Linked DNA regions of Homo sapiens. The main gene of each other region encodes a partner of the protein of the gene in region 4 in a complex. Links are inferred from orthologs where the notes say so. Each region holds a gene or a part of one and is shown on either strand. Other genes may lie near its edges. The genes, in order: PAK1, ITCH, SHANK1 and ARHGEF7.

Region 1 (7,015 bases), on a different chromosome or scaffold from region 4:
CCATCTCACACCAGTTAGAATGGCGATCATTAAAAAGTCAGGAAACAACACGTGCTGGAGAGGATGTGGAGAAATACGAACACTTTTACACTGTTGGTGGGAGTGTAAACTAGTTCAACCATTGTGGAAGTCAGTGTGGCAATTCCTCAGGGATCTAGAACTAGAAATACCATTTGACCCAGCCATCCCATTACTGGGTATATACCCAAAGGATTATAAATCATGCTGCTGTAAAGACACATGCACACGTATGTTTATAGTGGCACTATTCACAACAGCAAAGACTTGGAACCAACCTAAATGTCCAACAACGATAGACTGGATTAAGAAAATGTGGCACATATACACCATGGAATACTATGCAGCCATAAAAAATGATGAGTTCATGTCCTTTGTAGGGACATGGATGAAACTGGAAACCATCATTCTCAGCAAACTATTGCAAGGACAAAAAACCAAACACTGCATGTTCTCACTCATAGGTAGGAAATGAACAATGAGAACACATGGACACAGGAAGGGGAACATCACACACCCGGGACTGTTGTGGGGTCAGGGGAGGGTGGAGGGATAGCATTAAGAGATATACCTAATGCTAAATGACGAGTTAATGGGTACAGCACACCAACATGGTACATGTATACATATGTAACAAACCTGCACGTTGTGCACATGTACCCTAAAACTTAAAAGTATAATAATAATAAAATGTAAAAAAAAAAGAATTAAAAAAAAAGAAAGAAAAATAAAACATAAATAAAATAAAATAAACTTATGTTCCTTTGCTAAAAATGTATCCTTTGAGCTAATCCCAGCAAAATATAAGTTGTGTAAGATTTGGGTGTCAGAGACCCGTTTCTCAACAAGACTCAAACAAACTCTGCCAGACTAATTCAAACAGAACAAAGGAAGTGCTAATGAAAGATACAAGCAGGCTGGTCATGGTGGCCCATGCCTGTAGTCCCAGCACTTTGGGAAAGCGAAGTGCGCAGATCGCTTGAACCCAGGAATTTGAGACCATGCACGGCCAACATAGCAAAACCCCGTCTCTACAAAAAAGTTTTTAAAAAACTAGCCAGGTATGGTGGCGTGCACCTGTAGTCTGAGCTACCTGGGAGGCTGAGGTGGGAAGATCACTTGAGTGAACCCAGGAGAGGAAGACTGCAGTGAGACAAAATCACGCCATTGCACACTCCTGCCTGGGTGACAGAGTGAGACCCTGTGGGGCGTGAGAGGAAGGGGGAGAGGGAAGAGGGGGGGGAAAGGGAAGGGAAGGGAAAGGAAGGGAAGGGAAGGGAAGGGAAGGGAAGGGAAAGGAAGGGAAGGAAAGGGAAAGGAAGAAGAAAGGAAAGGAAGGAAGGAAGCAAGCAAAAAAGCTACAAGCAAAGCTCAATAGGTGCTCAGAAAATAGATTGTAAACTGAGCCTAGGAGAACGTGTAGAGTTTTAACAGGCTGAGAAAGGCTAAGAAAATAAATGAGCAAAGGCCCAGGGATAAAAGGGCAGTAGGAACAGAGTGAGTGTAGGAAGTGGTAGAAGAGAAGCCTAGTTCTATAATATCCAGTACCTTACAAACATGAAGTAAAAAAGGCCTGGTTTAGTGATTCCCTGAATTAGGTGCTTCCCTGCATAAGGACAGTTACCTGTAGCAGCTCTTTAGCTGAACCTCTCTTCTCCACATCCATCTCGAGACAGCGGTTCAGAAAGTCCCGGAAGATAGCTGACAGCTTCTCTGGGTTCTGAAGTTCTGGGGTCCCATTGGTGGCAATGAGGTACAAGGCCTGGCAATAAAAATGGTGAATCACCTTGAGCTCCAAATGAGGCTCTCTCTTGTTCCCCATATACAAGTTCTAGAAATATGGTCAGCTGCTTTATGCTCTAGGATGCAAAGTAGCAGCTGTGTATATATACTGGAAAGAGTATGACCTAAGGATCAGGTTGAACATTTAAAGGCCATGGGACTATGTACAACTTCCCTGTCTGTAAAGTAGGGATGATGATAATGCCCATCTCACATGTCTGTAAAAATAAAATAAGATAGTGTATTTGAAAGTACTTTGTAAACTTATGAAATATGTTACAGACCTAAGGGTTTATTCTTCTTCTTCTTTTTTTTTTTTTTTTTTTTTGAGATGGAGTCTTGCTCTGTCGCCCAGGCTGGAGTGCAGTGGCACGATCTTGGCTCACTGCAACCTCCACCTCCCAGGTTCAAGCAATTCTCCTGACTCAGCCTCCCAAGTAGCTGGGATTACAGGCACCAGCCACTACACCCGACTGCTTTTCGTATTTTCAGTAGAGACGGGGTTTTACCATGTTGGCCTGGCTGGTCTCAAACTCCTAGACTCAAGTGATCCTCCTGCCTCAACCTCCCAAAGTGCTGGGATTACAGGCGTGAGTCACTGTGCCTGGCTTTATTATTATTCTTGCTTACACATCTGAAGGGTTTATTATCCATTTAGCCTGTTGAGTTAAACATCTGCCCAGCTGCTGGCAGAAATTATTCCTGGTGCCTTCACCTCAGTCATCCAAGAACTGATCTCTTCTAGCAGGAAAGGAATATTAAATGTAAGTGAAAACTGTTGCCACCCTAGTCCCCTAAATGAAGCGTCTCCTGGGAAAGGTAAAGAAAAACAGTAAGACTAAATCTTTACAAGCACTCAGCACTTAATTCAAAGAGTACTTACATAAGCACTGTCTAATTTAATGGCCACAATTAACTCTGGGTAATAGGGCAAGACTTATCATCTTCACTTCACAGATAGGGTCCGGAAACATAAAAAGATATGTCTAGGGCCGGGCGTGGTGGCTCACTCCTGTAATCCCAGCACTTTGGGAGGCTGAGGTGGGTGGATCACCTGAGGTCAGGAGTTCGAGACCATCGAGAACAGCCTGACCAATATGGCGAAATGTGGTCTCTACTAAAAATACAAAACTTAGCTGGGCATGGTGGCAGGTGCCTGTAATCCCAGCTACTCAGGAGGCTGAGGCAGGAGAATCGCTTGAACCTGGGAGGTGGAGGTTGCGGTGAGCTGAGATCACACCATTGCACTCCAGCCTAGGTGACAGAGTGAGACTCCATCTCAAAAAAAAAAATAAAATAAAAATAAAAAAATAAAAAAATATGCCTATGTCTAGGATCATTCTGTCTTATTTCCAACATATCCCAGCAATTATCATCTTCAAATATCTGCAAGGCCGTTCTAAGGGAGGGAAGAGTATGTTGTATGTGGAGTCAGAGGCAAAGCTGGGATCAAAGGATAGAAACTACAGAAGGTAGTTTCAGTTTGGTGCACTGAAGCAATTTCCAATAATCAGAGATATTCAAGGATGACATGAGCATGTAGATGACCACCTACCAGCAACAGTGCACAGGGAATTCCTGCACTGGATGGGAGGTGGGAATAAATGAGAAAATAAAAGCAATCAGAATAAATTTCACATTTGCCCACACCAAGATTACCAACCTATTTGCACCTGTGTTGAGATGCTCTGTTACAAGGGATAAATTGTCCATGCTAATCTAATGTCCTTTACTTCAGTACTTGATCGAACCCCTCTCATCGACTTAAGGATATCACTTCTATGGTTGTCACTTCCTTCTTGTACATGACCATTTTCCTCCTCTCCACTAAATCATTCCCATTAGCACACAGACATCATCTTTTAGAAAAACCCTCCCTTGACTCCATTTTAAGATAGTGCTCCATTTTTGTTACCCTTCCCAGCAAAATTCCTTTAAGAGAAAAAAAAACCTGTTTATACATGCCATCTCAATGTCCTCTTCTTCCACTTTCATGAATTTAATTAGACTTTCATCCCCATCTCTCTACTGATAACTGATTATTAAGGTCATTAAGAACCTCTACATTGGCAAATCCAATGTTCATTTCTCAGTCTCATCTTAACCTATCAATCACATTTGACACATAATCTACCCTCCTCCTCCTTCGGGAAGCACACTGTTCTCTTCATCTCCAGGACACTTCACCTCCAAGACACTTCTCTGTTCTCTCACACTAGAAAGGCCACTCCTTGGTCTACTTTGCTAGTTCTTCCAACCTGTAAACAGTGGAATAACCTAGAGCTCAGTACTCAAATCTCTTTTCTTTAACTGTACTCATTCCCTAGGTGAGTGATCTCATCTACCTACTATATATACCAACTATATATTATCTACTAATAAATTTATGTTTATAGTCCTGACTTCTCACCCTTGAACTCCAGACTCTTAAGCCAAACTCTACTCCAGCTCCACTTAAATGTCCAATTAACACTTCAAATCAGCACATTCAAAACCAACTCTTTATTACCCAACTTAAGTATGCTCTTCACCATTTCAACAGATGGCAACTGAATTTTTTCAGCAATTCAGACCAGAAATCTTGTAGTCATTGCTGATTCCTCTTTCTCTAATATTCAGTTCATCTTGTCAGCTAGTCCTTTAATTTCCTGAATCTGACCACTTCTCACTTCCACTCCTACCAAGACACCACCACTCTGAACTATTACAACAGTCTCTCGCAGTCTATTTTCCATAAAAGCGGCCAAAATGATCTGTTTAAAACATAAATCAGATCACATTACTCCTCAGCTCAAAACCCTCTAATGACTTCCCAACTCTGCAGAATAAAATAACTTATAAGAGAGAACTTCCCTCTCTACTCTAAAATAGCACACCTGTTCCTCCATTACTCTGTTAACTCCCTTACTTTGCTTTTTCTCACAGCATTTACCATCTGTTACTACATATTAATTTATTTTATTTTCATTAGAATAGTTTCTTGCACTTGACAGGGACTCAAATAATTGTTGAATAAATGAATGAGTGACTTCTAATATTCCTTTTCTTTGGCCATTTATACTTTAAGTTCAACAGTGACTAGTTGTATCCAGAAAAGGGATCTCCAGGTTGAAAACCACAGAGAACACCCTGGATTCTTATTTCCTGGGACTAGAGACAACAGCCCAAATAACTTGAAATAGAACTGGTAACACTCACTCTCAGAGGGTTTTCATTGAGGTATGGAGGCTCCCCTTCAATCATTTCGATGGCCATGATGCCCAGGGACCAGATGTCAACCTTGGGCCCATAGGCCTTTCGTGTCACAACCTCTGGTGCCATCCAGTATGGGGTTCCTACCATGGTGCTCCGTTTGCTCTGCTCTGGGGTTATCTGTGCACAGAATCCAAAGTCAGCTAGAAAAGAAAAATAAGAGAAAGAACATACATTTAGGATATACACTCACTTCAGTAAGTGTTGACTGTGTACCTACACATAGGTGACAAGATCCGCCTGGCTTCCAGCTCTGCTATCCTTTGTCTCTCCAAAGTCACTTGACTACCACCTTCATGTCTAGCTCCTAGCCTATTTCCTATTGAACCCTGAAGAGAAATAGAAGGAATATAAGAAACACCATCTCTGGCCTCCTACTTCTCCTCAAACCAGGGGACTTAGTGTTAAAGTCCAAGCTGCCCATTTTGGTCTTGATTGCTCATCCCAATTCTGCTTTGTTCTTGAAAAACCATTCCCATAATCCCAAATCTGGCGACTAGGTCCTTGTCTTATTCCTTGGGCACGAGTCCTTGATTTAAACCCCAATCACCTATGACTAGGCATGGCCCTGTTTTTATGCCCCAGACCCAGGGCTGCTAGCAGTCCTTCCATAAACTGCCCATCCACCCATGACACAGCCTGTTTGTCTGGTCTACTGGTCTTTACACCTTTGAACAAAATGCTCTACCTGCCATGGTTTTTACATTATATTGCAATTATAAATTTATTTAAATTAGGAAGCCTTTGAGAGTATGGATTATGTCCTCTTACTTGTCCTCATATCCCTAGAAGGACCAGCATGTACTGGACATTCAATAAAAGTTTGCTGAATAACTGAATGAAAGAAATTATACAAAACTCTTTTTTCTAATTATCTATTACACGTTTTCCATACTAGATTGAGAAGGTAGGGAAAATTTACTCTCAGTGCCCATCACAGGACCTAGCACAGAGTAACCATTCAGCAAAGTTTTTTGTGGTTGTTGTTAAATGTATAAATGAATGAAAAAATAATGAAATGATATCCTATGATTAATACAGAAAATATAAAACAGCCCTCATATCCCATGAAATCATAAAGACCCTTTGGTGAGTGTCGTAGTTACTATTATATGATGACCATCTCACAGGAGACAGGGCCCCACAGGCAGAGAAGTATTATCATTCCTAAGGCTCCTACTTACTTAGCTTGACAGAGCCATCCATTCCCAACAGAATATTGTCACTCTTGATGTCTCTGTGAATGACCTGGTTCGAATGCAAGAACTCCAGAGCCTGCAGACACTATTGAAGTGGTGTGGGCAGGGGGAGAAAGAAAGGACATACATATAATACAGAAGACTTAATAGAAAATCCACTAATTCAACCTCTTCACTTTAAAATAAAGGAAGTAAGGCCCCAGTGAGTAAAAGGACTTGCCCCAAATCAATCGCAGAGCCAGATCTAGAAACAAGTCTTCCATCTCCTAGCTAAACATTCTTTTAACACTCCATGCTGCCTTTCACCTTAAAACAGTTTTTTTAAGTAAAGGAGTTCCTCCAATGTAATTTTTTTTCTAATTAGATCCTTGGTAAAGGACCTAAGGCCCAAGAGAAATTACTGAAGAAAAATGGAAAGGATCTTATAATGACAGACCAGAGGAAAACAACAAATAAGGGTCATATTTGAGGAAGCAGACATATGGAAGTGATACTAGAAGCAGTAAGTTAGCAGGATAATCTTATTTTGGTGAGGAGATATTTTGTACTATTTTGGATATGCTGAATTTGATATCTGAAGACAAATGTCTGGTAGGCAACTTAATTTATGATAAATTATGGTAAATATTTACAAGTCATTTGGGAAGAGATGATTTTTGTTTAAGTTATAAAAATGGTTGAACCCGGCAAAGGGTAAAGGAGAAAGAGAAGAATCTTGGAAAACACCTATACTTAGCAGGCAGAATGAGTAATAAAGAGACACA
Region 2 (7,448 bases), on a different chromosome or scaffold from region 4:
CGTGACTGGGTGAGACCCAGTCTCAACAACAAAAAATCACTTTTCATATACTTGCTTCCTTTAACCTTTCTGACCTTGCGTTTCAAAATGCTCTCCTTCCCCATTCCACTCCACACTCCCTGAACCCTTTTTGTTCCATAATCCTCTGAATTTACACACAGCATTAAGGCATTCACTCAGCCTACCCTGTCCTTCTCTTTCCCCGCCCTTTTCACACTCCTACTCTTCATGTAAGACCCAATGTGGGTTCAGGGGCAAATCTTGCCTCTTCTAACCAATCCTCCACCCAGCCACACACACAGAATTGGCCACTTCCTCTTTCGTCTCAAAGCTTTTTGACCTTTCCTTGGTAAGTCTACAGTACCATTTGCCCTCAGTGGTTCCCAAGACCATCAGAATTACCTAAGGCATGTGTTAAAAATAAATTGGTTGAAGCCAACCCAGACCTACTAAATCCATCTCAGAAGGTAAGACCCTGGAATTTCTAAGCTCTCCTAATTATTCTAATGGTCAAATTTGGGGACTACTGGTTTGTCTGCCTCTCCCAATAAGTGAAAAGATGTATTTTTTAGGGCCAGGAGTGGCGGCTCATGCCTGTAAACCCAGCACTTTGGGAGGCCAAGGCAGGTGGATCACGAGGTCAGGAGTTCGAGAGCAGCCTAGCCAATATGGTGAAAACCCATCTCTACTAAAAAATACAAAAAAATTACCGGGAGTGGTGGCACGCGCCTGTAGTCCCAGCTACTACGGAGGCTGAGGCAGAAGAATTGCTGGAACCCGGGAGGCGGAGGTTACAGTAAGCCGAGATCACACCACTGTACTCCAGCCTGGGTGACAAAGTTAGATTCCGTCTCAAACAAACGAAAAAGATGTATTTTTTTCTAAAGAATGTAGAAATGTTTGATTCTAGAATACACTGAAGAAGTAGTCTGTACTCATTTTTTTAATTTCATATGATATCCTTGGTGACTTGACCTGTATGCTGAATGTAATGGAATTCCTTTTGGACTCACAAAACTTAAATTCACAGTTCAAAGAAGCAGTAGAATTTCCACCTTCATTTCTAAATTTTTTTTTTTATTTTTTGAGACAGGGTCTCACTCTGTCACCCAGGCTGGAATGCAGTGGCAACGGTAACAGCTCACCGCAGCCTCGACCCCCCGGAATCAGGTGATTCCCCCACCTCAGCCTCCTGAGTATCTGGGACCACAGGCGCCTGCCACCACACCCGGCAAATCTTTGTATTTTTTGTAGAGACGGGGTTTCACGATGTTGCCCAGGCTGATCTCCAATTCCTGGGCTCACGTAATCCGCCCACCTCGGCCTCCCAAATTGCTGGGATTACAGGCGTGAGCCACCACACCCATCCCATTGCTTTTTTTTTTTTTTTTTTTTTGAGGCGGAGTCTCGCTCTGTCGCCCAGGCTGGAGTGCAGCAGCGAGATCTCGGCTCACTGCAGCCTCCACCTCCCGGGTTCAAGCCATTCTCCTGCCTCAGCCTCCCTAGTAGCTGGGACTACAGGCGCGCGCCACCACGCCCAGGATTTTTTTTTTTTTTTTTTTGTATTTTTAGTAGAGACGGGGTTTCACCATGTTGGTCAGGATGGTCTCGAACTCCTGACCTCATGATCTGCCCGCCTCGGCCTCCCAAAGTGCTAGGATTACAGGCGTGAGCCACACACAGCACCCGGCCCATTTCTTAATTTTAAAAATAAATCGTAGCTTAAATAAACCTGTAAATACACATAGCAAGCTCTCAGCAGATCTGCCATGAGAACTTCACCTCAACTGATAAACCATTCCTTAGCCGATTTTGAGAATGGAAATACACTGCCTTTACATACTTCCTGAAGATCGAATTCTATCAGGAAAAGATGCAGGAGAACCCACCTAAGTGGGTGGCTGGCTCCAGGGTCTTACTAATTTTCAAGGCAAAAATCCCACAATTCCCCATCCCCCACTCCAAACCAAGTATACTGTAGCTGTGGAAGAATGGCAGAAAATGTAATAAGATTAGGATACGAATACAACCAAGAAAACAAGGTTGCGTTGTTATTGGGGATAATGAATTCCTGGCCCTTTACAAGTTCACCTGGTTACATGTCCAACTAACTTTAGGCCCAGCGTCTACTTCGGGCGCACAAATTCTGCGATTCTCTTTTCTGTCGCGGACGGGAACTGTCTTGGAAAACTTGAGTTCTCCACTTAAAAGTCATGTCATCATGCTTCGACCCTTAGAATACGTTCAACGGCTACTTTTTTCTTTTCTCTGCTAAAGAAAAGGGCACTCTCCGGAGGAAGGGCAGTGACAGCTCCACGTCTGCAAAAGTCGGCGCCGCCACGACGGTGGCGGACGTCGGGGAGGGCGCCGGAGCCGGGACCACCACGCCGGGGGGACAATGGAAGGAGGAGGCGAGTGGGAGAGAGAAGGGGAGGCAGCCGCTGTGCTGGGCCCTTCTAGCGACTGGGGGCTCGGAAAAGTCTCGAGAAGGCCAGCTGGGTGGCGGGGGACCCGGCCGCCGCCCCTCACAGGGCCACGTCGCCCGCGCCGGCCCCGCCGCCGGGCCCCGCGCGTAGGCCGAACCGCTGGAGAGTGGCCCCAGGCGGGGCTGAGGGGCGAGGGGCCGGACGGTACCCACGCCCGTCGTGGCCCAGCCCTTTCACAACTTGGAGCCCGCGAGGCGAAGGCCTCCGGAAGCCTGTGCCAGACACTGATCCCTCCGAACGTCCAGACAGCCCACCCCCACCGCCCGGCCCGGGCCAGTAGCCCGAGCTCCCCGCGCCCCCGACAGACACCGGCTCTGGAAGAAGGAGCAGCCGCGGCTCTGGGGTCCCGAACCGCGCGTCCCACTCCTCTACCCTTGTTCTCCCCGAACATTCTCATCCGGACTCCCTCCCTCTCCCGAGAACTGCCCCGAGTTCGCCCACGGGGGTTTACCGGGACTCGGGGCGGCGGCGACTCCTCAGTCCCTAGACTAAGATGGCAGCCGGTCCCGAGCCCCGACCACAGCTACTAGAGCGAGTTAGCAGCTAAAGCGCAGGCGCCTGAGCGCGGAAGTGGTCTAGACTACAAGCCCCAGCAGGCCTTGCGCGCCAGCCGTCCGGCCCGCCCCTGGCTTGAAGAGCTGGCTGCGGTGGTAAATCAGTTAAATCCCAGTTTTCCTCAGCTCCAGGTGAGATGGGCGCGAGCGGCTCCCAGCACCTCCAGGCTTTTTTTTTTTTTTAACACCCCGCCCACCAGAGCCTATAAGGACTGTGATTCTCAAACTATGGTGTGCATCAGAATCACCTAGAGAGCTTATTAAAACTTACACTGCTGACCCCCACCCCCAGAGTTTCTGATCAGAAGATCTGGCATAGGAGGATAGGGTCTGATAATTTGCATGTCCAACAAGCTGTCTAGTGATACTGCTAGTGAGTGAAATCATAATTTGAGAACCAATGGGCTATATAGCTTAGTTTATAACTTAGTTGTTCTTTTTTCTTTTTCTTTTCCTTTTCTTTTTTTTTCTTCTTTTTGAGATAAGGTCTCACCCTTCACCCAGGCTGGAGTGCAGTGGTGCAGTCATAGCTCACTACAGCCTCACACTCCTGGGCTCAAGCGAGCCTCCCACCTGGGCTTCCTGAGTAGCTGGGACAGCAGTTGAGCACCACCACACCCGACTAATTTTGTTCTATTCTTTGTAGAGATGGGGATGGGGTGGAGTGCGGATGGGATGGGGCGGGAATAGGGCCACGGTGTCGCCATGTTGCCCAGGCTGGTCTCCAGCTCCTGGGCTCAAGCGATACTCCCTCCTCGGGCCTCCCAATCGCTGAGATTACAGATGTGAGCCACTGCACCTGGCCTGGCTTAGCCTTTAACAATGTACATTAAAGGGCGTGGTTAAAAAGAAAATAAAAGAAAAAAAATGTACACTTGAGAGTTACACTGACCGGATTCAAATCCTCCCTTTTCTACCTTTTAACTGGGTGCCCTTAGGGATGATGACAACAGCTTAGTGGAGCCAACGTGGCCTGTCCGGTATTCTAAGAGCTGATACCAAGCTCCCTTTATTCTCACAACAAACCTATTACAGAAATACCATTATTATCCCCATTTTACAAATATATAAACTAAGTCACATACTTGATAAGAACCCAGGCAGTCTGGCGTGAAAGTCCGTTGTCTTAACCTTCTTCATGGATTGCTTGTGAGAAATAATAGGCTATGCAGGCAGAGACTCAGAGGTATGACTAAGTGCTCAATACTTAGTGACCTTTGCTATTACTGTTTAGCCTGTTTCCTCCTAATGAAAATAGTATTTTGCCATCTGGAAAGTCACATTTTTCAAAGTGACTTTTTTTTTTTTTTTTTTTTTGAGACAGAGTCTTGCTCTGTCACCCAACCTGGAGTGCAGCGGTGCAATCATAGCTCACTGCAGCCAACCTCCTGGGCTCAAGTGATCCTCTCACCTCAGCTTCCTGAGTAGCTGGGACTCCAGGCTCAAGCCACCACACTATCCTAATTGTTTTTATTTTTGTAGAGACGTGGACTCCCTGTGTTGCCCAGGCTGTTCTCAGACTCCTAGGCTTGGCTAGGGTCAGTGGCTTACACCTGTAATCCCAGGAGTTAGGGAGGCCAAGGCAGGCAAATCACTTGAGGTCAGGAGTTTGAGACCAGTCTGGCCAACATGGTGAAACCCCGTCTCTTTTTTTTTTTTTTTTTTTTTTTGAGACAGAGTATTGCTCTGTCGCCCAGGCTGGAGTGCAGTGGCGCAATCTTGGCTCACTGCAACCTCCGCTCGCCTCCTGGGTTCAAGTGATTCTCCTGTCTCAGCCTCCTAAGTAGCTGGGACTACAAGCGCATGCCATCACGCCTGGCTAATTTTTGTATTTTTAGTAGAGTTGGGTGAGCCACCACGCCTAGCCTTGTGAAACCCCTTCCCTACTAAAAACACAAAAATTAGCCAGGTGTGGTGGCGGGTGCCTGTAATCCCAGCTACTTGGGAGGCTGAAGCACGATAATTGATTGAACCCAGGAGGGGGAGGTTGCAGTGACCCAAGATCACGCCATTGCACTCCAGCCTGGGCGACTCAGCGAGACTCTGTCTCAAAAAACAAACAACAAAAGAAACATAAAGGCTGGGCGCAGTAGCTCACTCCTATAATCCCAGCACTTCGGGAGGCTGAGGCGGGTGGATCACCTGAGGTCAGGAGTTTGAGACCAGCCTGGCCAACATGGTGAAATCTTGTCTCTACTAAAAATGCAAAAATTTGTTGGGCATGGTTTGGGAGGCCGAGGCGGATGGATCAACTGAGGTCAGGAGTTCAAGACCAGCCTGGCTAACATGGTGAAACCCCATCTCTACTAAAAATGCAAAAATTAGACCGGGCACGGTGGCTCACGCCTATAATCCCAGCACTTTGGGAGGCCAAGGCGGGCGGATCACGAGATCAGGAGTTCAAGACCAGCCTGGCTATCATGGTGAAACCCTATCTCTACTAAAAATACAAAAATTAGCCGGGCGTGGTGGCGGGTGCCTGTAATCCCAGCTAGTCAGGAGGCTGAGGCAGAGAATTGCTTGGACCTGGGAGGCGGAGGTTGCAGTGAGCCAAGATCGTGCTACTGCACTCCATCCTGGGCCACAGAGCGAGAATCTGTCTCAAAAAAAAAAATGCAAAAATTAGTTGGGCATGGCACACCCCTGTAATCTCAGCTACTCGGGAGGCTGGGGTGGGAGAATTGCTTGAACTCAGGAGACGGAGACTGCAGTGAGCCAAGATCACGCCACTGCACTCCATCCTGAGTGACAGAGTGAAACCCCATCTAAAAAAAATAAAAAATCAAACTCCTAGGTTCAAGCCTTCAAGCCTCAAGCAAAGTACTTTCAAAACCACTTCATGTTTCCTGCAACATGCCTTAGGAAAGATTGCTAAAATACAGATTCCTGCGCCCCATCCTCATTCAGTTTCTCTAGTGCAGTGGTTTTCAAACCTCAGTACTTATCAGAATTGCCTGCAAAGTTAGTTAAACTGTAGGTTGCTGAGGCCACTCCTAGAGTTTCTGATTCAGTAGGTCTGGGGCAGGGCCTGAGAATTTGCTTTTTTTTTTTTTGGAGACTGAGTCTCACTCTGTCGCCCAGGCTTGAGTGCAGTGGCCCAACCTCCGCTCACTGCAACCTCTGCCTCCCGGGTTCAAGCGATTCTCCCGCCTCAGCCTCCCGAGCAGCTGGGATTACAGGTGCATGCCACCACGACTGACTAATTTTTGTATTTTTGTAGAGATGGGGTTTCACCATATTGGCCAGGCTGGTCTTGAACTCTTGAGCTTGTGATCTGCCCGCCTTAGCCTCCCAAAGTGCTGGGATTATAGGCGTGAGCCACCGCACCCGGCCAGTACAAGGTATTTTTATGACCATTATACAGAGAAGAAAACTGAGTGTGACAGAAATTAAATGGCTTGTTGAAGATCACTCAGCCAGGAACCAGGGATCTAACCCTAAGTCCTGTAGCTCCAGATTCTGTATTCACCTACAATTTTAAAAACTATGTAAGGTTAGGCAAAACTAGTCTATGGTGTTAGAAGTCAGGATACTGGTTACTCTTTGAGGGGAGGGTGTACCTGGAAGAAGGCACAAAGACACCTCTCAGGATAGGTAATAATGTTCTGTGCCCTGATCTGGGTGGTGTTACTGTTTCAGGAAAAGGGTCCTGATTCAGACCCCAAGAGAGGGTTCTTGGATCTCGTGCAGGAAAGAATTTGGGGCAAGTCCATACAATAAAGTGAAAACAAGTTATTTATTTATTATTCTTTTTCAGACAGAGTTTTGCTCTTGTCACCCTGGCTGGAGTGCAGTGGGGCAATCTCAGCTCACTGTAACCTCCGCCTCCTGGGTTCAAGTGATTCTCCTGCCTCATCCTCCTGAGTAACTGGGATTACAGGCGCACACCACCACACCCAGCTAATTTTTGTATTTTTAGCAGAGGTGGAGTTTCACCATGTTGGCTAGGCTGATCTTGAACTCCTGACCTCAGGTGATCCACCTGCCTCGGCCTCCCAAAGTGCTGGGATTACAGGCATGAGCCACGGCACCCAGCCGATAATGAGTTTATTAAGAAAGTAAAGGGGCCGGGCGTGGTGGCTAACGCTTGTAATCCCAGCACTTTGGGAGGCTGAGGGGGGTGGATCACGAGGTCAGGAGTTCAAGACCAGCCTGGCCAACATAGTGAAACCCCACCTCTACTAAAAATACAAAAATTAGCTGGGCGTGGTGACGTGCGCCTATAATACCAGCTACTCCAGAGGCTGAGGCAGGAGAATTGCTTGAACCAGGACCCAGGAGGCAAGGTGGAGGCTGCAGTGAGCCGACATCGTACCACTGCACTCCAGCCTGGGCAACAGAGCAAGACTCCATCTCAAAAAAAAAGAAAAAGAAAAAAGAAAGTAAAGGAGGCCGAGCGTGGTGGCTC
Region 3 (7,779 bases), on a different chromosome or scaffold from region 4:
CCCGGGTCCCCCGGGGGCCTCGACCTGGCCCGTCTGGGGAGCTGTCGGACTCTGAGCCCCCCTCGGGACACTCGCTGGCACTGTGGCGTTCCTCGTCCTCGCTTGTCGCGGGGCTGTGGGTCATTGTGGGGCCACGGGGCGACGGGGGACGGCAGCATCACAGGCGGCTGCAGGGGCCAAGGGCGGCCATCAGACTAGGAGCCCGGGACCCCTCAGAGGCCGCAGGCGCTATTCGGTGGTCAAGCGGTCAAGGGCAGCCTACCCCCACTGCCCAAGATAGGCAGGAAGGAGGCTGGACACACCCTCGGCCTGCACGGCCTCCCCTGCCGCCTCCTCCCACGCTGGCACGCACACACCCCTGTCCCTGACATGCTTCTGGCATGTGTCTCCTTCCCTGCCCTTGGCCCCGCTTGCAGCCCGCCCCCTGCGCCCCACTTTGCTGGTGACCCAGCGTGGCCGTGTCCCAGAAACCGCAGAATCACCGCGGGAGCTACTGGCCCACTTTGCCAGGCCACAGAAAATGCAGCTAAAATTAGCTAAGGACAGACAGGTGGACAAACTGACAGGCATCCTGCCCTCCTGGCCCCAGCCTGGCCCCTCATCCCAGGGCCGGGGGGTGGGGTTGGGGAGAAGCTGAGGCTGACACTGAGATGTAGTAAGGGGGAGAGGGAGGTGTGGTGAGCCTGGAGCGGGTGGAGCTGGTGACTTCACTCAAGTGTGGCTGACAACGCGTGGCATGCCGAATAGTGCTGGGGAATCTGCCGTCCCAGGGGAGCAAGGGGCACTGAGATGGGGGTGTCATGGGCAGAGCATTTGGCCTAGGGTGTCCCCAAGGGAACCACAAGAGGTGGCTTTTGGAGACTGGGGCATCTTGAGAGGGTGTGCGGGTAGGTGGGGAGGTCGGCCTGGGGAGTGCTGTCCAGGTGACAGTGGTGTGGTGGCCCGGGTAGATGTGGGTGGCTGCAGATGACCTGTAGCTCTTTTCTAGGACTGCAGGGTGGGTGGGCTGGCTTGCTGGGTACTAGGGGCTCCACTCTGAGGACTGGGGGTGTTAGGAGGGAGGCTAAGAAGTGAGAGGAGGGTCTGGGGAACTGAGTGGGGGATCATCTCTAGATCCTTGCTGTTCTCCCTTGAGGTGGCCTTATGAGGGTGGAGCCCCTTCCAAATGGGGTCCGCCTCCCTTCTGTTCTCCCCCAACTCCCACCCCAGCACCGGAAACCAGAATGTCTGGTCTGGTCCCTCCCCCCAACACCAGGCCCGGTTCCTGCACCGTTGCCATGGAGATGGGAAGCAGTGGAGGGTACTGCTGACTTTGGGGGAGTGGGGATGGGCTGGGGGGTTGGGAAAGGGAAGACTAAATGTGTGTGGTGGGAGGAGAGTTCCAGGAGGTGTGGGCGAGCGAGCCTCTAACCCAGGGCCGGCGGACCCCTCCCCCACGCGCGGCAGCGCTGCGAAGCCCCCTCCCCCTCCAGGTACCCAGCCACGCCGCCCCACCTCGTCCCTGCGGAGACCCCGGCTGCCTCCTCCCTGCCCCGCCGCACAGCCCACCTCGCGATCTGGGGCCCGCAGACACTCCCCCTCGGCTGACCCTGGCTGACCCCCAGCCTCAACCCCGCTCGGAGGGGGTGGCCGGTGGGATGAAAGAAAAGCTGGCTAGGGCCCCCCGCGCGTACGGCTGCCCCAGCCCCCCCGGGCCGGCTCCGGCCCCTCCCCCTCAGGGCTCGCGGGAGGGAGCGGGCACGCTCCGCCGGGGCGGCATGAATCAAACGCTCCGCGGCTAAGAATAGCTGGCACGCAGCTGGTACCGAGACGGGCTGAGGAATCGGCGAGGGGGGTGGTGGAGGACGCGAGAGAGGGGGTGCCCTGGGAGGCTGTGGGGGGACAGGGGGCGGCTGGCGTGGCCGAGAGCGGGGCCGGGGAGAATGAATGGAGGCGGAGGGAGGCGGGGAGGGGCGGGGAGAGAGAGCCGGAGCCGAGGCTGGGAAACTGGTGGGGGAGAACCCGGCCGGGGAGAGGGGCGGGGGGCACCGGGGAGCAGGAGTCGGGGGCGGGAGCCGAGGGGGCGCGCCGGCCGGCGGTGTAGGGACTGGAGACCTGGTGGGGACGCAGGGAGCTTGGACAGGGGTGGAAAGGGACTGGAGGAGCCTGGAAGGAGAAGCGGGAGCTGGAGGGGTCGAAAGGGGCGGAGGAGGCCCGGGCCTAGACCCTCGCTGGAGGGGAGTGGGGACCAGGGTGACCTGGCGGAGGGGCCCAGGTACGCCAGGGAGGGCGAGGCGGGGGAGTGGCCGGGCTGGGCGGGGAGGCGGGTACCAGGACCGAGCCCTTGGCCCCGGAGAGCCGGGAGGCGGGTTCGGGATAGGGGCTCTGCTGGCCGGGGGTGGGGGGCGCGCCCTCCCATCAAGGATGCGATCTGGGACGGGGCACCGGGGACCCGGGCGTAACCCAATTTGGTGTCGCCCAGGGCAACGCTCCCCACCTCACCCGTACCCCCAGCCGCACACCCAGGCCAGGAGCCCGGCGCCGGGCCAAGGACATCCGGGGCGCCCTCGCCCCCTCCCGCGGCCCCGGCCCCGCAGCTGCCCCAAACCCCCAGGTTCTCGACCCCCTTACCTGCCTGGCGGGGCTGCTGAGTCCCGGTCGGCGGCGCCCGCGGCCCCTCCCCCCTCCCCCCACCCCCCACCCCCCCGGAGACGGGGACCCTCAGGCCATGCCCCACCGCCCCGGAGGGCGAGCGGGCCCGGGGAGGGGGCGGGCGGGGACCGGGGGGGAGGGCGGGAGGGCCGAGGACCTCACCCCCCCCGCGGGCCGGGCCTGGCCATCCGCAGAGCGCCCCCCCTTCCGCCGCGGCCGCCGCGCCCCTCCTCGCCCGCCCCCGGCTCGGTCCGGCCGGCTCCGGGCGCCGCGTCTCCGCCTGCTCTTCCTCCTCCTCTTCCTCGGGCCGCCGCCGCCGCCGCCCGCTCCGCGCCTCCTCTGCCACCCTTCTCGCTCTCTCGCTCTCGCTGTCTCTCCCTCACCCTGTCTCTCTCCCTCCCTCTCTCCCTCCCTCCCCTCCCTCCGCCCTCTCCCCTCCCTCCGGGAGCCGGCGGAGGAGACATCGCCCCTCCCCGCGCCCCCAAACCTCGCCCATCCCCCACCACCGCCGGCTCCGCCCCCTACCCTTGCCCTCCCCCACCACTCCTCCCCACCTCCGAGTCCCCAAATCCTGACTCCGCCCCTGCTTGCTCCCATACCCCGAGGAAGGGGTCCTGCCCCCATAAGGTGCCCCCCCACACACACCTCAGGACCACCCCCTCCCAGAGAGCTCCCCGCCGCCCTACACAGAGTGGGGCACAATAAATATTTGTTGCCAGACTCTACACCCCCAAATTTAAGTGTGAAGGCTATAGATTCCCACCCTGTCCCCCCAAACACACACACACCCTTTCCATTTAAGCACTGGGTCAGGGCACACGTGGACATACCTGGGCCAGGCCACATTTCCCCAAGGCACAGGTGCATAGTCACCAGCTGTAACGGCACCTGCAGAGTCCCCACATACACACACTCTCCAGCGCATGCATGCCCAGACACAATGCACCTGGGGTACACAGCTACAAACACACCCAGCTACATGCAGTTGTCACACCCCTGTGCCCGGGCACACACGCAGCACATGCACACATTTGCCCACCACACACGCACGTGCGCGCGCACACACGCACACAGGCGTTCACCCCGGTATGCATGCCCAGATCTCTCAACACCAAAACGGAGTTACAGCACTGTAGAGACGTGTGCACGCCTTCCCATCACACCCACCCACCGTGCTGTCCATTGCACTGGCTCGCACTCACCCGTTTACATGCCCAACACCGTGCCATCCTTCCCCTCCAGGATAGTTACTGCTGACATTCCTGGAGCACTTTCTGTGTGCCAGGCTCAGGGACTTTCGCCATCCCCATTTTCCAGAGGGGGAAACCAAGGAACAGAGAGGCTAAGTAACTTGCCCAAGGTCATCCAGCTGTAAGGAGGTGGTAACAAGGATCAGGAACAGGTAGGCTGGCTCCAAAGTCCTCACTTGACAACTATGGTGCACTACTGGGCATATCCCCTCATAGTTGCATATCCTTATTCATCACACACAGACACACCCAACCGTCTCCTCAGAGTTTGCACATGTCTGTGTAGGCACGCATATGCAGCCAGCTGCAGGCAGACAGCTCATTCATGCCTGGGACGCACCCACAGGGACAGAGCAGATCCCACAGGGCAGCAGTGAGTGGTGAGTGTCCCCTTAGCCCAGGCTTCCTCATTCTCCCAGCTCCAACAGCACCTCCAGGGCCTGCAGGGGGCAGTTCTAGGCAGCTTCTGGGTTCCCCTCCAGCTGCAGGCTCTCCGGGGTACCCGAGTATGAGCTGGAGGAGGTGCCTGCTCAGCCTGGGGAGGCCTCTATCTTGATGCGTACCCACTAGCCCAGGTGGTGAGCAGCTGGGCCCGGGGAAAGCACAGCTGCCCATGTTGGCTCCAGCAGCCAGAGAGGCTGTGCACCCCTGCACACTTTACAAGGCCTTTCCCCACATACGCATTATTTCTTGAGGTCTGTAGCTCCTGGTGAGGGGCCCCAGGTTCCCGATGGGCACCTGAGAGGCCCAGGCTCTGAGGCAGGGAGCAGTCTGCCCAAGGTCACAGTGCCCTCGATGTACCAGGATTTCTTGGAAAACGGAAGGCTGGAGGCACTGATTTCCAAGGCCCCTCCTGGGGCTCCCGGCAGCCGAGGGCAGATGCCCTGCTCTTGGAGCCAGAAACCTTGGCTAGCTGCCGCCACACTGGTGACCTCCAGCAGGCTATGCTGTTTCAGAGCCTCGGTCTCCTCCTTTGAAGAGCAGGCCCAGTGATCCTTGGCTGGTGTGCCCCATGCTTGTTGGCACCACCAGCCAGGCCTGGGCGGGAAAAGCCCTGCATGACTCATGGGCCTGACATAGAGGGGCATGGCATGGCATTGTTCTTCCTTGCCTCCAAGCCTCTCTCCCACTGCCCTCACCACCTCTACCTACCCTGCCACCACCACCCTGGGAACTTGGGTGCCAGCAAACCAAAGAGGTGAAGCTTCCAGGCCTTTGACCCCACCAGGAACGGCTACCCTCTCGCCCACTCAACAGGTTGATTGAACACCTACTATGTGCTAGGTAGGCCTTGTGCTAGGAGATGCATCAGTGCATAAAAATCCCTGCTTTCATTGGCAGGGAACAGACATAAACAAACAAGATCATGCCAGTCTTGATTATACCAAAAAGATGAAATGGGGCATTTTAATAAAGTAACTTGCGGAATAGATAAGGTGGTTGGGGAAGACCTCCTGGAGCTGAGACCTCGATGATGAGAAGGAGCTGGGGAAAGAGGCTTCTAGAAGGAGGAAAGGGCTAGTGCAAATGCTCTGAGGTTGTAATCAGCTTAGTATTTGGGGATGAGCCAAGAGGCCAGGGAAGGTGGAGGCTGGGGGTGGGTGAAGGGAATGGGGGTGATGAGGCTGCAGAGGTGCAAAGGGTTCTTCCTTCCCAGCCCCCAGCATGGTAGGCTGCGCTGAGGACTGAGGCCCGGGCTTGGCTTCCCTCCTGCTTATGATGGGAAGGTGGGGGAGCAGGGGAGTGGGGAGTGATGTGATCTGATTTATGGTTTGGAAGGATTGCTTTGGCTGCGGCAAGCAGCCGGGATTGGAGGGGCTCAGGAGGAAGGAGGGGGAGGGCGAGACTGCAGTGGTCCAGGCTGAAATGAGGTGGCTTGCTGAATGCTCAGAGCTCCTTGAGCACACAACCTAGCGTCTGTCGATTTCACCTCCTGGAGAAACCTTCCCTGACTGCTCCGCCAGACTCCTCACCCTCTCCCATCTCCAGCCCCCTCATCCCCGGAGCTATCTGGCTGCTGGTCTGCAAGCAGCTGGAGTCCCCAGCATCACCCAGCCCACAGCCTGGCCTGCAGGAGGCTTCTAGTAAAGTGGCCAATTAATCCCCGAGCCCCGTCTTCCAGGGTCATGCACACAGTCACACGCGTGCTCTTCACATGTGTCACCCTGCCCCCACACACACTCACTTGGATCTCCAGACAAGGGCTTGGAGGGTAGGATGGGCAATCTAGGGGGCAGGAGGGGCCCTGGAGTCTCCTCCATTGAGTGTGCAGGCGATGGTGGCCACAGGGTAATAACAACCTCAGCGAGACCCTGAGGTCTGCCCCTCCTTAGGAATGGCCAGGCAGGGAAGAAGGGAGCAGTGCTCGGTCCCAGCATCCCACCACTGCCGAGATGGTTCTGAGCGGGTTCCTGGGCTGAGGCCGGGGCCTGTGTTTTCCAAGATTCCTTGGAGAGCCAGCTCCATCCTCTTCCTGATTATCTGATCTTTGGGCTACAGCAGAAGGAAAGAGCAGGGCGGAAGCGAGCTCTGGAAAGTGGAAAGAGGAGGGTGTGCGAGGAGACCCAAGGCGGGATCTAGGCTTTGGAACGTTGGAGGTTTCCGGCCACAGAGGCAGGGCCTCCGGGGAGCCAAGAGGGGCGGGGAGAGACACACACAGAGAAGCAGAGGAGACCAACGGACCGGACAGAGACGAGGAGAGGAACAGGAAGAGAGAAGCTGGGAGAATCGGGAACCTGGGGGCTAGTGACCTGCACACAGGGCAGGGGCACTCGGCAGTTCCCAGAGGCCACCCCTCCCACCCCAGACATCCAGACATCTGGAACTTTGGGTGCCAAGAGTCCAGCTTAATGCAGGCAGCCTGGCTTTTGGGGGCTTTGGTGGTCCCCCAGCTCTTGGGCTTTGGCCATGGGGCTCGGGGAGCAGAGAGGGAGTGGGAGGGAGGCTGGGGAGGTGCCCAGGAGGAGGAGCGGGAGAGGGAGGCCCTGATGCTGAAGGTGAGCTCTGGAGTGTCAGGGAGCTATGGGTGGTGAACTGTGGGTCTGGGAGGGGGTATTGCAAGGTTAGGGAAATGGACAATGAGGAGCGATTGGGATAGTCTCAGAGGAGTGGGAGGGTGATGGGCTCAGAGACAGGACTCAGGCAGCAGAGAATGAGTTATGAGTTGGAAAGGGGTGAATGGGGCATCTTGGTGGCAGGCTGGGGCTCACCACCCCTCCCCTGCCCCAGCATCTGCAGGAAGCCCTAGGACTGCCTGCTGGGAGGGGGGATGAGAATCCTGCCGGAACTGTTGAGGGAAAAGAGGACTGGGAGATGGAGGAGGACCAGGGGGAGGAAGAGGAGGAGGAAGCAACGCCAACCCCATCCTCCGGCCCCAGCCCCTCTCCCACCCCTGAGGACATCGTCACTTACATCCGTGAGTAACCAGAAGCCCTCACCCCCAAACTCCTAGGCCGCCGCGGTCACTTTCGCAAAAATGAAGGGTCGGTTCACTGCCAAGTGGCCTTTCAGTTGTCCATTGCCCAGCCCAGAGCCCCCACACCCCTAGGAGCCCCAGGTCCACGGCCATGCCTCCTAAAGGCCTGGGCCACTCGACCCTACCTTCCAGGAGTCCGGGGTGCCCCCCCCACCGCCACCCCGCCCTCAGGAGCCCTAGATCCCAGTTCTCCAGGTCCTCAGGCCCCCCGCTGCATCTCCAGGCTCCCCCTCCAGCATGATCCCTGTCTGTCCGCAGTGGGCCGCCTGGCCGGCCTGGACGCAGGCCTGCACCAGCTGCACGTCCGTCTGCACGCGTTGGACACCCGCGTGGTCGAGCTGACCCAGGGGCTGCGGCAGCTGCGGAACGCGGCAGGCGACACCCGCGATGCCGTGCAAGCCCTGCAGGAGGCGCAGGGTCGCG
Region 4 (7,923 bases):
GCAAGCAAATTTGTCCTCTTCCCAAAAGGGGAACAGTATATCTACTTTCCAAGGCTGTTTGCTTTAAAAGACTTTTGAAAATATAGTCTGCAACAAAAGCTGTCATTACCTCTGCTCAGATATTCAGAAGTGGAAGAGACTCATGGAGAAAGGTCTCCCAAGAATTCCAAAAAGAGAAATTAAGAAGAGGGAAATAAGAAATTGAAATGTATCAAATGTGTTTTTCAAAGTCTGTGAATTCATAATGGTATTCAGAAAAATCACTGGTCTCCTCTGCAGGATGCTGGAGCACCAACTCGTGATGCTGAAAAGTGGTAAACAATGGAAAATGAGTGAGCATTTATCTTGCCTTTCCTGTAGGAACTACGTTTCAGAGTACACATATAGCTGATAAAGAACAGTACCTCTTGCAGAATTCTAGCTGAAATATAACTGAAGGACTTATCAAGATATGGCAATTCTGAATGAAACACTGAATCTAGTAGGAATTATGAATAGTTGCTGAAGCAAATAGATGATGATGGGTGGAATCATAATGGATGGATCTGGATAGTAACACCAGAATGCACCAATCGATCCTGCATCACAGAGATCCCAGGACACCACGTTCCTTCTGAGTGATGATAGTAAGTTCCACTTCCCCTTCCTCTCATGTAATATTTCTGGGGCAGGGTCCTGATTTCTCAAAGGGCACTATTGGGAGTAAAATTGTCCACCAAAAGATATGTTGAAATCCTAACTCCGAGTACCTGTAAATGCAACCTTATTTAGAAATAGGTTCTTCACAGATACAATCAAGCCAAGATGAGGCCATCCCAGATCAGAGTGGGTCTTCACCCAGTGACTAGCATGCTTATAAGAAGAGAGAAATTCAGACACTGACACAGAGAGGGAGAAAAGTCCATGTGAACACAGAGGCAGAGATTAGGGCGATTTATACCCAGTACAAGGAGGTTCCCTTGGATGGCTGGCCACCCACAGAAGCTGGGAGAGAAACCTGCAGCAGATTCTCCCTCTGGGCCCCAGAAAGAACCAATCCTGCCCACACCTTCACTTCAGACTTCCAAACTTCAGAAATGGGAGAGAATATATTTCTTTTTATTTGAGCCGCCCAGCTTGTGAGACTTTGTTACGGCCTCTCCCAGAAATGCATAGGCCCCAGTAGGACTGCAGCCCAGGTTCCCGTAGCAATAACCTGCCAACAAGGCAGCCTTGTGTTTAGCTTCTCCCCTTCCCTGTCCCATCGTCCCATTTTCTCCTTTGTGCTTTTCATGGTCACTTCCCAAATAGGCAGCCTGCACTGAAGCCCTGGCTCAGGGTCTGCCTTCGGGGACAGGAGGGGACAAACCAAGGCAGATGGTATCAGAGGGGACCTTGGAAAGCAGATGCCCAGGGGGAGAATCCCAAGACACATCTCTCCCCAGCCAGATGGCACGGCCTTAGGACACTGTGTCAGTCAGCGTTCTCCAGAGAAACAGACCAATAGAATCTCTTTCCATTGACCAACTGATCAATTGGGAGAAAGGGAGACAGAGGGAGGGGAGAGAGACTTATTACAGGGAAGCAGCTCATGTGACTATGGAGGTGGGCACATCTGCTCTGCAGGGGGCCCACAGGCTGAAGAACCAGAGAAAATCCTCCCTTACTTGGGGAAGGTCAGTCTTTTTTTCTATTCAGGTCTTCAACTGATTAGATAAAGCTCACCACATTGGGGAGGGCCATCTACTTTACTCAAATGTTCATTACATCCCAAAACCCCCTTTCGCAGACACACCCAGAATAATATTTAACCAAATGTCTGGGCACCCTGTAGCCTCGTCAAGTTGACACATAAAACTCACTGTCACAGATGCCATTGTTGATGCGCCATGAGTGGCAATCTCCCACGCCCATTCTGCACCATCACAGTGACTGTGCCGCTCACCTGTGCGGAACTGGCATGTGGAGCAGGTGCGGTGGAAGCGCTGGCTTATGAAATAACGCTAATGCCTGCAGTTGAATTGTCCCCCAAAAGATACGTTGGGCTCTGCTGAATCAGAGGTCACTGGTGGGGGAGCCCTCAATCCAGAGTCCATGGGTAAAGTCAGCCTTCCTGCCCTCTGGCCAGAAGGTGCTGAGACCTGTTCCACTTGTTTCTCAAGGGCCCCCCAGGGGAACAGAGCCCTAGTGCTCATTTTCACCCCTTGACTCCCTTACCTGCTTCACTCCCCTTCCTCACTGTCCTTCCTGGGGTCACTCCCTAGCAAGCCACTTGCACCCAATTTGTGGGCTCAGGGTCTGCTTCTGGGGGAAACCCAACCAGGAGAAGCGTCTTGTTGGCATCATGTTTCATAATATACTATACTGGTCAAATGCTTTCTGATCCTGCATACTCCTCCAGCCATATGTGTTGATAAATTAATGTTTCCTGCCTTGCATCTTTTAATTTTAGCATTTGATCATATTTATCCCAAATGAACAGGACCTTGTTTCATACAATAACACACAGCAGATACAATGAGCTGCATAGAGCCACTTCGTAGTGCATTCTCCAATCTAGACAGGGTCCAGTTGGATAAGGGTAGTTCTACAGGGAGTGATTACTACCCACTCTAGGTAAATGGTCATCTGATTGTCCAGCTTAAGTTTGGAGTGAATTTTGCCTTATTTTTTAGATTTTGGCATTTTTATAGTGACCCCACACACGCTGAGTTGGCAGGGTTCAGCTGAGCTTTGGGTGGTAACTGGTTTGCAGTAGGGTTTGTGCGTGAACTCCTAACAGTGATGTGGAAGGTGCCTACCAGGCACTAGCAAGCAGCCAAGCTGGGTGTGAGGCTGACATTCTCTCATTAGAAACGAAGGAAGCGAAGCCACAGGCTTGCGTGGAAAGCCATTCTCCACCTCTTGAGGCAAGTCCAGAGGAGAGCCACAGAAAGGGCTAAACTTCCCCTTAGACAATAGTCTTAACTCGAGCTAACCCAATAGCCCAAAAGTGATGGGCACCAGATTGCACTCCGCGTGGCCTCTGTAATAGGAACCTGGAAAAGTGCTAAGGAAAGTTTAACCAAAATGCCCACTTTGGATACTAAAACAACTCAATTAAGCACCTAAAAATATCTAGCTTTGAGCAATGTTACTTTCTAAAATCCCTTCCAAGTAAACTCTTTTTCTGAAATTAATAAATACCCAACATAAAAGAACGCAACTAGTAACCATAAAGTGTTTAAAAGTCTGGGCTTCTCCCCACCAAGAAAAGACGAGTTGTAATACCTGGACTGTGGGTCTCCAGTCCGACAAGAATTGGCTCTCTGCTTCACTGGTCTCGTAAGGTCACTCCCTAGAATTGGCTTTCTATAGGACCATTTAATTGAGTCTATTTGAATCTTACTCAAGTCTACCACCTTATAAGTATCAAACCGAATTTAGTAGGATTCGAAATGGTAAGGACTGCATTAAATTATTTCTCTAATTCAGCAGTAAGGAAAGTGAACAGAAGTCTCGGTGTACAACCACGCCCCGGGTTGACATCTTTCCTTCCACGAAGACACTGGGTACAAGCCTTGATGTAGCTGTTAATTGCCCTCCTGTTTCCTAGAAAGCTTATAGGGCAGCAGTAGGAAACGGGTTAGGTATGCCTTTCCTGGTAGGAGCCGAGCTTTGGGTCTTATCTCTGCCACTTGTTCGGCATCTGATCAGTAAAAGGGGACCATGATGGGAGGCGAGGCAGTAGACAGCACTTTGTGACGGTTCCTAACCAGTCGCTGTTATCACTGAGCACATTGTCCTCGTAATCCAGAATTCATACTGCCATTTGAATATTTTTTGTATTTGCAAAGAAAATTTTAACCACTTAACTCAAGGCTAGAAATAAAAGCAATTAGTGATTGCAAGAGAAATCCACCGGCAGAAGGCAGGGGGAGACGACTTAAGCCTCTGATTATTTTTGGAAGCTTTATATGCTTTCTAGCCTTTGTCATTGAATGGATTAATGTATGTGCCTGGCATAGACTAAGTGCTTTGCTTGTTAAACTGCCCGCGGGTCATAGCGAGCAAACTGGGGGAGCGCCCAGGGACAGTGGATGGAGTGAGTGGAGACTCGTGTCCTTTTAAGAAGAGGCTCCATTTCTTCCTCGCATGTCAATGTGTGCGTGTCATCAGTTGTTCGAGGAAGCTCGCGCATGACGCGACACTTGCCGTCTGGGCTCTCCAGGTTCGGCCTGCTGCTTTCACAGCCCAGATCTTCGGCGTCCCCGAGACGCAGCCAGGCGCCCGGCCCGGCCCGGCCCGGCCCTCTGCACAGCCCCACTTCAGGCCACGCCGTTTCCTTGACCTTCCCCCGGCAGGGTCTGAAGCGTCACCGTCCGTCTAGAGCAGAGTCGCGCAGGCCCCTGCCCTGCCGGTGAGGTCGGCGCCGCGCTCCGGAGAGTCGGTTCCTCCCGATTCAGACCCATATGGCTTCAGATGGAACCATCATTTCTGTTCCGTCATGACCGGCTTGCAAGGTAGCAAAGCGAAACAAACGTCTCGTTTTCAGCCTGTCCCCGCCACCTTGAAATAAAACCGGCAAAAATAAAAAGAGCATTCTGGGAAGTACTTCATCATTTCAACGCTCACGAATTCAAAACATAAACAAAGGCTTCCGAGTGCCCCGGCCAGGGGCGCGGGGCGCACGGCGGGCCCGGGGCAGGTAAGCGCAGGTGCGCGCCCGCCCCCACCCCCGGCTCCCTCCCCATCCGCTCCCCGCTCCCCTTCCCCTTTCCCTTCCCCGCCCGCTCCCAGCCGCCGCCGCCGCCCCGCGCACGGCCTGGAGCGGAGGCTGCGCAGGGCGCGGGGCGGCGCGGGCCGGGCGCGGGCCGGGCGGACGGCCGCGTCTTTCTTCTCCTGGCGGTGATGTCATTGGGCGACGGCGGCCGAGGCCGGGGGGCGGCGGCGGGCGCCCGCAGGTTCCCGAGCCGCTCCTGAGAAGGCGCCTGACAGCGGGCCGGGGCGCACGGAGAAGCGGGCCGGGCCGGACCTGCTGGGCCGCGCCGAGCCAATCGCCGGCGCCGGCCGCTCGATGGGCGAGGCGGCGGCGGCGGCGGCGGGGGCCGCGGGCCGGGCCGCCGCTCCGAGGTGAAGGCGCGCGCCCCTCCCCGCCTGCCTCCCGGGCCGCAGCGATGAATTCCGCCGAGCAAACCGTTACGTGGCTCATCACTCTGGGGGTGCTGGAGTCGCCCAAAAAAACCATCTCGGACCCGGAGGGCTTTCTGCAGGCGTCGCTGAAGGATGGGGTGGTCCTCTGCAGGCTGCTGGAGCGCCTGCTCCCCGGGACCATCGAGAAAGTAAGTCCCGGCCCGCGCCCCCGCCCGCGCCCCCCGGTCCGGCCCGCTGCGGCCCGGGATGCGCGCGGAGCACCTGAGGCCGGCCGCGCTCGGGAAACCCGTGCGCCCTCCTTTGTGCGCGGAGCGGCGGCGCGGCCGGCGCCAGGACCGTGGCGGGAGCTCGGGGGGCGCCATTGTGTGCGGGGCAGGGGGAGGGGGCCGGGGAGCGGGGTCGGGGGGAGGGGCGGCGCGGGCGGCGGGGGTCCCCGGGAAGGAGAGTGCACCGCAGCGAGGAGACGGGGCTTCTGCGCCGCCCGAACGCTAAGTTGCCCCTCCGCGTGGGGGGCCGGCCCCGCTCCCTGGCAGCAGCCGCATCGGAAACCGCGTTCCGACGCGGTGCGGCTCACTCCGCTGGCTTTGTGTGGACAGTTCTTGCCGGTGGCGTTGCGTGAGTTTCGCCTCCCAGGTTAATTGACCGGTTGCTCTGTATTTTTAAAGAGGCACGCATCTGTAGCTGAGGGCTGCGCTGTGAAACGATCTACTACTTTCCCCTCGAGAAAATTCCCCACCTATCCGAGCCGAGAGGACGGCAGACACAGGGTCTAAGTCCTGGCACTCTTCAAGGCTTGTTAAAATTCTAGATTTCGTTCTCAGGTCCCTCCCTCGTTCTGAACAGAACCTTTAGTCCTGCAGGCACTGCTTCTCCCTTCCGGCTGGTGGTTCCCAGGCTGGAGCGTGTGAACCCTGACCCGAATCTCTGGAAGTGATTAAAGTTTGTTTTCATCGCCCACAAGCCGGCCAGCAGGGCCGAGGAGGCAGGAGAGTTTCTAAAAACGATGTCTCCCTGTAGCTCAAAATACTAAAATCTTATTCCCAGGGTGTTTCTTCGGGGGGTGGGGTGGGGGTGGGGGTGGCCAATATATAGCGTTAAGATCAACAGTTATTTAAAAGGTGTTAAATATAGAAATTGAAGTGTACCATAATTAGGAAGAAGGATTTCAGTTTTTAAGTGGGGTGTATTGGCCCCCATACAGGATGACAACAACTTGTAAATAAAATGCCACGTAAGTGACTTGAAAAAGTAAAATGTTTAATTTTTTTCATTCACATGTACATATTCTCTTGCTACATTTTAAATGAGGTCAGAAAACATTTTATTTAATATGAATTTGGCTTGCATTCCACTTTTAGCTATTTTTCTTACTTGGAACATCTTTATGAAAACAGAATCTGCATATTAGAGTGAATGGCTGCCTGCCTGTCCATGAAATAAAAATGTTCCTTAAAAATGAACCTGATGTCACAGTGAAATTATGATTTAAGACAGGAGGACTGAGGAGCAGGAGCTGACTTTCAAGGCATTCAAAATACTTTGCTGTTTGGATACTGGTACCTCTGGTAATGAAAGACAGATGTTGAAAAGTGTTGAAATGCATGCAAAGTTCACCAAAATAGGCTTAAATAAAATTCTGTTCCATCCCTAAGAGCAAAGCTTTAAGAAGTGTCATATGCTGTATTGATAAAAACATGTCGCCATCAAAGAATATGTTGTTTGGCATATTAACTGTATTAATATTGATTGGCCGACTTCAATAATCATTTTCTTTTAAATTATAGAAAGATTTTCCTAGAAAACCGTAGCGTTCATTTCATCTCTAAAACAACAAAGAGAAGAACGAATAAAATGTTGAGCTTGCAGAAGCCAAGTTGAAACAACTCAACATATTCTAAAACTACAGTCATCTGGAAATTTCTTAGGTCAGAGCTGTTTTTGATTCCCCCTGAGCTCCAGTTGGTTTGTGTTAAACTGACTCTGTCACAATGAAAGTTTAATGTGAAGGCAGCGTATTGTAGACACAGTTACTGGTTCTCTGGAGTTCAAAGGTAGGTTTTTGGAGTAAAATATTAGCCGTTTTCTGCCTCTGAGATCCCTGTGTTTCAGAAGTTTTGTGAGCTTTTTCCATTTGCTAGGCAGAGTTATCTGGGTTTCTTTCTTTCTTTTCTTTTTCTCTTTCTTTCTTTCTCTCTCTCTCTCTGTCTCTCTCTCTCTTTCTTTCTCCTTCCTTCCTTCCTTCGAGATGGGTTCTTGCTATGTTGGCCAGGCTGGTCTTGAACTCCGGGCCTCAAGGGATTGTCCCATCTAGGCCTCCCAAAGTGCTGGGATTACAGGCGTGAGCCACCACGCCCAGCCAGTTATCTGGGTTTTTGGTGTTTTCATGCTTACCAGATAATCTATGCCACAAAGCACACATGCTGAATAACTTTTACTTAAATGTGGGAATGTGAGTCTGAGGATGTTTTTTCCTTAAAAAGAAGCATTTGGAAACTTAACTGAATGTTCATGTGGACATGACAGGGGCTTCGCTTGACCTCTGCTGCAGGAGTGCCCTGACAGCCAGTGAGCGGAGGGCAAGTGGCCTGCAGCCTTCGCCTCTGCAGGCTCACAACCTGGCATGGGCCATGAGGCTGGGGATGAGGGCAGAACTAAAACGTGGCTGGGTGCCTCGGGCTTCCCATATGTCTTTTATTAAGAAACCATGCCCTAATGTGTTTCTTCCATTACGCTCATTTGTTCTGTTTCAGAGTTAGGAAGAGGGTGGAGGGAGCAGAGAGGACGTTCACGGCGTGTCAGATTCTTCTGCTC

The links.
Region 1: the proteins of ARHGEF7 (region 4) and PAK1 are in contact, whole or in part, in an NMR structure (PDB 1ZSG), measured with the Homo sapiens proteins. Residues at the interface, in NP_001106983.1 of Homo sapiens: Lys192, Phe193, Phe195, Thr198, Asp201, Glu202, Glu217, Gly220, Trp221, Trp232, Pro234, Ser235, Asn236, Tyr237; in NP_001363202.1 of Homo sapiens: Thr185, Pro186, Pro188, Val189, Ile190, Ala191, Pro192, Arg193, Lys198, Arg203, Ser204.
Region 2: the proteins of ARHGEF7 (region 4) and ITCH are in contact, whole or in part, in a crystal structure (PDB 5SXP), measured with the Homo sapiens proteins. Residues at the interface, in NP_001106983.1 of Homo sapiens: Phe193, Phe195, Thr198, Asp201, Glu202, Arg215, Glu217, Glu218, Gly219, Gly220, Trp221, Glu223, Thr230, Trp232, Pro234, Asn236, Tyr237; in NP_001244066.1 of Homo sapiens: Arg252, Pro253, Pro254, Arg255, Pro256, Arg258, Pro259, Pro260, Pro261, Pro262, Thr263, Pro264, Arg266.
Region 3: the proteins of ARHGEF7 (region 4) and SHANK1 are in contact, whole or in part, in a crystal structure (PDB 3L4F), measured with the Rattus norvegicus proteins. The link is inferred for Homo sapiens from one-to-one orthologs. Residues at the interface, in XP_063131056.1 of Rattus norvegicus: Asp735, Ala737, Trp738, Asp739, Glu740, Thr741, Asn742, Leu743; in NP_113939.2 of Rattus norvegicus: Gly673, Phe674, Gly675, Phe676, Val677, Leu678, Arg679, Gly680, Ala681, Lys682, Phe696, Glu703, His735, Arg736, Val739, Ile742.

The regions. Positions count from the first base shown.
Region 1 is NC_000011.10:77,331,088-77,338,102, forward strand, and holds part of PAK1 (serine/threonine-protein kinase PAK 1), read right to left. Parts: intron 6,337-7,015; coding exon 6,237-6,336; intron 5,196-6,236; coding exon 4,999-5,195; intron 1,781-4,998; coding exon 1,643-1,780; intron 1-1,642. UniProt on the Homo sapiens protein: Protein kinase involved in intracellular signaling pathways downstream of integrins and receptor-type kinases that plays an important role in cytoskeleton dynamics, in cell adhesion, migration, proliferation, apoptosis, mitosis, and in vesicle-mediated transport processes.
Region 2 is NC_000020.11:34,358,839-34,366,286, reverse strand, and holds the start of ITCH (E3 ubiquitin-protein ligase Itchy homolog), read right to left. Parts: upstream 3,015-7,448; 5' UTR 2,938-3,014; intron 1-2,937. UniProt on the Homo sapiens protein: Acts as an Acts as an E3 ubiquitin-protein ligase which accepts ubiquitin from an E2 ubiquitin-conjugating enzyme in the form of a thioester and then directly transfers the ubiquitin to targeted substrates.
Region 3 is NC_000019.10:50,716,796-50,724,574, forward strand, and holds the start of SHANK1 (SH3 and multiple ankyrin repeat domains protein 1), read right to left. Parts: upstream 3,008-7,779; 5' UTR 2,611-3,007; intron 168-2,610; 5' UTR 125-167; coding exon 1-124. Other genes in the region: CLEC11A (C-type lectin domain family 11 member A precursor), read left to right, coding at 6,731-6,877, 7,110-7,296, 7,615-7,779. UniProt on the Homo sapiens protein: Seems to be an adapter protein in the postsynaptic density (PSD) of excitatory synapses that interconnects receptors of the postsynaptic membrane including NMDA-type and metabotropic glutamate receptors via complexes with GKAP/PSD-95 and Homer, respectively, and the actin-based cytoskeleton.
Region 4 is NC_000013.11:111,110,392-111,118,314, forward strand, and holds the start of ARHGEF7 (rho guanine nucleotide exchange factor 7), read left to right. Parts: upstream 1-4,918; 5' UTR 4,919-5,135; coding exon 5,136-5,300; intron 5,301-7,923. UniProt on the Homo sapiens protein: Acts as a RAC1 guanine nucleotide exchange factor (GEF) and can induce membrane ruffling. Functions in cell migration, attachment and cell spreading. Promotes targeting of RAC1 to focal adhesions. May function as a positive regulator of apoptosis.